Linked DNA regions of Homo sapiens. The protein of the gene in region 1 purifies or fractionates together with the protein of each later gene. This does not show direct contact. Each region holds a gene or a part of one and is shown in the gene's direction. Other genes may lie near its edges.

Evidence for each region.
Region 2: the proteins of OR5M8 (region 1) and UNC45B purify together in Homo sapiens (affinity purification with mass spectrometry; one large-scale study listed by BioGRID and IntAct). This does not show direct contact.

The regions. Positions count from the first base shown.
Region 1 is NC_000011.10:56,489,832-56,492,764, reverse strand, and holds OR5M8 (olfactory receptor 5M8), read left to right. Parts: upstream 1-1,394; coding exon 1,395-2,330; downstream 2,331-2,933. UniProt on the Homo sapiens protein: Odorant receptor.
Region 2 is NC_000017.11:35,171,782-35,175,602, forward strand, and holds part of UNC45B (protein unc-45 homolog B), read left to right. Parts: intron 1-2,460; coding exon 2,461-2,588; intron 2,589-3,821. UniProt on the Homo sapiens protein: Acts as a co-chaperone for HSP90 and is required for proper folding of the myosin motor domain. Plays a role in sarcomere formation during muscle cell development. Is necessary for normal early lens development.

The DNA.
Region 1 (2,933 bases):
CTATAAGTTGTTCTTGTGAATATAGATGATTTTTATATAGAAAAATAGAAGGTACATTTCATTAATATCAGTGTTAACAGTTTTTGTTGTTGTTGTAAGTAACAGAACACAGCTCTGGTTATGCTAAGCAAAACCGGAACATTCTGAAAGGATGTTAGGGCTCCTAAATCAATGTGCGGTTAAAAGACCAGGCTCAGAGAACAGATAGCAGCCTAGGCAGGTGTGGAGGCTGAGCAGATCAAACCACACAGAATCAGTGTTTCTTTGCAACATCAGCCTGATCTTCAAACTTCACTGTAATCAATTAGATGAAAAAATATTTTGCAACCTTGAGTCATGAACTTACTTAAGACAAGCAGGGACTAACATCTGACCCCTGCCTACTCCTTTATGGTTTTTTTTTTTTTTTTTTTTTTTTTTTTTTTTTTTTGAGACAGCATCTGGCTCTGTCGTCCAGGCTGGAGTGCAGTGGCACCGTCTTGGCTCACTGCAAGCTCCGCCTCCCGGGTTCACGCCATTCTCCTGCCTCAGCCTCCTGAGTAGCTGGGACTACAGGCGCCTGCCACCACACCTGCCCTGACTACTCCTTTCTAAACAGAGAATCTGGTCTCTCAGTGGAAACTAGAAGTGGAAGATCAAGAGGAGAGAATTTCCATGAGTCTTAACTCCACATAATGGAAAATTTCCTCCAAAAAATTCAAAGAGAGTGTTACTGGCTAGAGAATTTAATAGCTGTGCAACCCTCAAAAGGCAAATATGCAGACACTTTTCAAAATAAGGGGAAAAAAATCATGCCCTGCCTGGAGAATCCCTATTGCACTGAGCCTGGAGGAATAAGAAAGCAACAAATGAGCCCAACCTGTTTGCTCAGGCTTCTCCAGGAAGGGATCGGATTGGTGAAAACTATTCACAAAGAACAAGATCCTCGGGCAAATATTGCTTTTTGATACTTGTCCTTTTCTCTCTTTACGCGCATTCTCTGCCCAGTATTATAATCGGGAAAAAAGAAATTGCTTAGTTCTGAATGTTATGTTTTGGGGCAAGTCCACCTATAAAGTACATTTCTCAAATAAAAGGAGAGGCAGAATAAGGGGAGGAGAAACGAGAGAAGAAGAATAGAAAAACAGAAGCTGAATTTGAAGGGAGTGAAAAGAAAGAAAATGGAAAGAAAACAAGAAAAATAAAGGGCAGTATCATAAAAGGTAGAGAGCTGCTTTGAATATCCCTAATTTAGTTTACCTGAAACAAAGTTCAGTAGAAATAGAATGAGGAAAACTGCCAAAAAGAGGGGACGTTTTTGGTAAAAGATCATTACTGTAATAGTAATAATCATGTTGCTATTGTATTGTAATCCAATATATATGTAAAGTTCCTTTCTTCCACCGAAGGAAATTATGAGAAGAAACTGCACGTTGGTGACTGAGTTCATTCTCCTGGGACTGACCAGTCGCCGGGAATTACAAATTCTCCTCTTCACGCTGTTTCTGGCCATTTACATGGTCACGGTGGCAGGGAACCTTGGCATGATTGTCCTCATCCAGGCCAACGCCTGGCTCCACATGCCCATGTACTTTTTCCTGAGCCACTTATCCTTCGTGGATCTGTGCTTCTCTTCCAATGTGACTCCAAAGATGCTGGAGATTTTCCTTTCAGAGAAGAAAAGCATTTCCTATCCTGCCTGTCTTGTGCAGTGTTACCTTTTTATCGCCTTGGTCCATGTTGAGATCTACATCCTGGCTGTGATGGCCTTTGACCGGTACATGGCCATCTGCAACCCTCTGCTTTATGGCAGCAGAATGTCCAAGAGTGTGTGCTCCTTCCTCATCACGGTGCCTTATGTGTATGGAGCGCTCACTGGCCTGATGGAGACCATGTGGACCTACAACCTAGCCTTCTGTGGCCCCAATGAAATTAATCACTTCTACTGTGCGGACCCACCACTGATTAAGCTGGCTTGTTCTGACACCTACAACAAGGAGTTGTCAATGTTTATTGTGGCTGGCTGGAACCTTTCTTTTTCTCTCTTCATCATATGTATTTCCTACCTTTACATTTTCCCTGCTATTTTAAAGATTCGCTCTACAGAGGGCAGGCAAAAAGCTTTTTCTACCTGTGGCTCCCATCTGACAGCTGTCACTATATTCTATGCAACCCTTTTCTTCATGTATCTCAGACCCCCCTCAAAGGAATCTGTTGAACAGGGTAAAATGGTAGCTGTATTTTATACCACAGTAATCCCTATGCTGAACCTTATAATTTATAGCCTTAGAAATAAAAATGTAAAAGAAGCATTAATCAAAGAGCTGTCAATGAAGATATACTTTTCTTAAAAATCAGTATTCTTTTGGTTTCTAAAGCCCTTCCTAGACTTTTTTCTTTAGCTGAGAAATATAGTGCATCAATGGAGAACATTGCAGTTTTCAAAACTTTATTTATTTTTATTTTATTATTATATTTTGAGATGGAGTTTCTCTCTGTCTTAGGCTGGAGTGCAGTGGTGTGATCTCGGCTCACTGCAACCTTTGCCTCCCGGGTTCAAGCAATTCTCCTGCCTCAGCCTCCCGAGTAGCTGGGAACACAAGCGCACACCACCATGCCCGACTCATTTTTTGTATTTTAGTAGAGACAGGGTTTCACCATGCTGGCCAGGCTCGGCCTCCCAAAGTGCTGGGATTACACGCATGAAACACCGCGCCCAGTCTAAAAACTTTATTTTCTAAAATTCAAATACGTACAATTTTGTTCACAAAAGCTTTTATGTTTTAAGTTGTCATTCATCTTGTTCAGCAGTTATTTTAAGTTCTTTGTCTTCCGTGCACAGAATGGCTTTGTACCTCCATGCCCTTAGGTTTAGGTAAGATCATGTGGCTATTTCTGGAAGATGAGATTAAAATTCACATATGTCACTTCTCAGTTGAATACTTAATTGATTG
Region 2 (3,821 bases), on another chromosome or scaffold:
AGATAACAATTTGATTTTCTCAGATTTCTGGATTTTGTGACATGGGTGCTAAGTAGGAATCATGAGAGGAGAGGCATGGTCAGCATTAGCCCAGAAGTCACAGATCCCCTGGAACCCTCTCCAACAATTCCCTGCACATGAAGATATGATTTGTGTGTGATTTGTTTAAGAATATATGCAAGATATTGCCAGCCAATAAAATCATTTAGATTTTTTTAATGATCAAAGTAATATAATCATGCTGCAAAACGAGTTAAAATGTGGGGAAAAGAAAATAACCACTCATGATTACGTCATCTCCACATGACTGCTGTTGGCATTTTGATGTTATGTTACCTACCAGAGGCTTTTTTTCTATGTATCTTTTTTCCTTTCACAGTTATAATTAGAATATATTTATCATTTTGTGCCCAATTTTGGAAAAATATGTTTTTCACATTGCCATCTCATTCTCTGAATCATTTTTATTTTATTTATTTATTTTTTGAGACAGAGTCTTGCTCTGTCACCCAGGCTGGAGTGCAGTGGTGAGATCTCGGCTCAATGCAACCTCTGCCTCCCAGGTTCAAGTGATTCTCCTGCCTCAGTCTCTCAAGTAGCTGGAATTCCAGGCATGCACCACCATGCCCGGCTAATTTTGTGTTTTCAGTAGAAACAGGGTTTCACCATATTGGTCAGGCTGGTCTCAAACTCCTGACCTCAAGTGACCCACCCACCTCGGCCTCCTAAAGCGTTGGGAATCCAGGCATGAGCCACCACACCTGGCCTCTGAATCATTTTTGAAAGCTGCATGATGTTTCATCCAGGCAAGGGTGCAGAGCATGTGCTGTGGCTGTGAAGTTCCAGTGTGGCTTCCAGGGCTTGCCCAGGGTTGTCAGCCCCTTCCCCACCACTCCTCACTCTGAGGATTATCTGTAGGGACTCTTTAACCCTGGGTTGACTTTGGGTTTCCAGCAAACCCAATCCATTGTTATGGCGGCTTCATCCACTGTGTCCTTTCCTGCCTATACCCTCTCTCTACCTCCACTCCCACCTCAGCCTTCTCCAAGAAAAACAATATACGCATCATTTAGTCTTTTGGATTATCCGTCTTTTATTTCATTCCTCTGTGAATGAGAGAATCTTTGGGACTGGTTTTCTACGGTATCAGCTCCTCAGGCTCTGTCTTGGGATTAGGTAAGGCAAGGAAGAAGAGAGGAGAGACAATCACACACGACAGCAAGGCGTGCTGTATACCCCTTGGCAGTTGCTTGGGAAGAGGGAATCTGGAGAAGTGTCTTAGTTTCCTATTGTTTCTAGAACACATTGCCACACGCACTGTGGCCTAAAACGCAATTTTTATACTTTTTTTTTTTTTTTTTTTGAGACTGAGTCTCCCTCTGTCGCCCAGGCGGAGTGCAGTGGTGCAATCTTGGCTCACTGCAACCTCCGCCTCTTGGGCTCAAGCAATTCTCCTGCTTCAGCCTCCTGAGTAGCTGGGATTATAGACACGCTCCACCATGCCCAGCTAATTTTTGTATTTTTAGTAGAGACGGGGTTTCGCCATGTTGCCCAGGCTGGTCTCGAACTCCTGGGCTCAAGTGGTCCACCCACCTCAGCCTCCCAAAGTGCTGGAATTACAGGCGGGAGCCACCACGCCTGGCCCGGTTTTAAAAATCTTATAGTTCTGGAGGTCAAGAGTCCTAAAATGAGTCTCACTCGGCTAAAGTCAAGGTGTTAGCAGGGCTGGTTTCTTTGGGAGGCTCTAAGGGAGAATCATTTTGTTGCCTTTTTCAGCTTCTAGAGGCCACCTACATGCTTTGGCTGGTGACCTTGAACCACTCTGACCTCACTTCCATTCCATTGTTACATCTCCTAGTACTAACTCTGATCTTCCTGCCTCCCTCTTATAAAGATCCTGGTGATTATATTGGGCCCACACAGAAATCTAGGCTTACCCCCTCATCTCAAAATCCTTAACTTAATCGTGTCTGCAAAATCCCTTTTGCCATGTAAGGTCCCACGTTCACAGGTTCCAGAGATTAGGCCATGGATTTTTTTTTTTTTTTTTATACAGAGTCTCGCTGTGTCGCCCAGGCTGGAGTGCAGTGGTGCGATCTCGGCTCACTGCAAGCTCTGCCCCCGGGTTCATGCCATTCTCCTGCCTCAGCCTCCTGAGCAGCTGGGACTACAGGTGCCCGCCACCACGCCTGGCTCATTTTTTGTATTTTCAGTAGAGACAGGGTTTTACCGTGTTAGCCAGGATGGTCTTGATCTCCTAACCTCGTGGTCCGCCCGCCTCAGCCTCCCAAAGTGCTGGGATTACAGGCATGAGCCACTGTGCCTGGCCAGGCCATGGACATCTTTGGAGGCCATTATTCAACCAACCCCAAGAATTCAGAAATGCACCATCTTTGGTTCCAATACCGATTGGCCTGGCACCCAGGACCCTCCCACATTGCCATCTTTTCATCTCCTCAGGACAAGAAGGACTTTATAGACATGCGGGTGAAGCGGCTTCTGAAGGCGGGTGTCATCTCTGCCCTGGCTTGCATGGTGAAAGCAGATAGTGCCATCCTCACTGACCAGACCAAGGAGCTGCTGGCCAGGTGGGGCTGCAGTGGGCCAAGGCTTGGAACTAGGGCTGGGGGCCGAGGGTCCTGGAGTGCAGCACACTGGGCAGGGAGATAGAAATGGTGGGGGCCTAAATGAGGAGATAAACTATTGGGAAAGCCTGGAGAAAGGTCTGAGGGGATCAGCTTTGAAAAGTGACATGGGACCAGGGGTGGTGGCTCATGCCTGTAATCCCAGGGCTTTGGGAGGCCCAGGTGGGAGGATTGCTTGAGCCCAGGAATTCAAGACTAGCTTGGGAAACATATTGAGACCCCATCTGTACAAAAAAATTTTAAATTAGCCTGGCACGGTGGTGTGCACCTGTACTGCCAGCTACTTGGGAGGCTGAGGCAGGAGGATCACTTAAGCCCAGGAATTCAGGGCTGCAGTGAATGATGATGGTGCTACTGCACTCCAGCCTGGGTAACAGAGCAAGATCCTGTCTCTATACAAAAGAGAAATAAAGAAAGAGAGAAAGAGAGAGAGAGAGAGAAAGGAAGGGATGGCGGAAGGAAAAAAGGAAGGAGGGAAGGGAAAAGAAGAAGGGAGGAAGGAGAAAGAAAGAAAAAGAAAGAAAGAAAAAGAAAGAGAAAGAAAGAGGAAGAAAGGAGGGAGGGAAGGAAGGAGGGAAGAAAGAAAGGAGGGAAGGAAGGAGAGAGAGGAAAGAAGGAAAGAAAGAAAGGAAAGAAGAAAGAAAGAAAGAAAGAAAGAAAGAGAAAGAAAGAAAAAAGAAAAGAAAGAAAGGGAAAGGAAAGGAAGGAAGGAAGGAGAAGGAAAGAAAGAGGGAAAGAAGGAAAGGAAGGAAGAGAAGTGGTATGTTGGGCAGGTCATCACAGGTGGAAGTTTGTATCAGGAGAAAGGAGGCCACTGTTCCTTCTTGTTACCTTGTTCTCAGAGATTAAAGGCACAGTCTGTGTGCAGCCTGGCCAGGGAGGCAGGCAAGATCACAGCTACAGTCCGATGCAATGGATGCCATGATGTGGGAAGCATAAAGGGCTGATTGGAGCACAAGCAGTGTTCCCCAACCAGCCAGACTGGAGGGGAGGTGGGTGGGCAGCTGGTAAGGCCTCCTGGGGGATGTGACAACTCAAGCTCTGAAGGAAGCAAAGGAGCCACCTAAATGCAGGAGAGGGAAGGTTCCAGGCAGAGAGAATAGCATCTGCAAAGACACTGAGGATGGAGAGAGAATGAGTGAATTTGGGGTTCTCCTGCAATATGTCTGGGGCAGG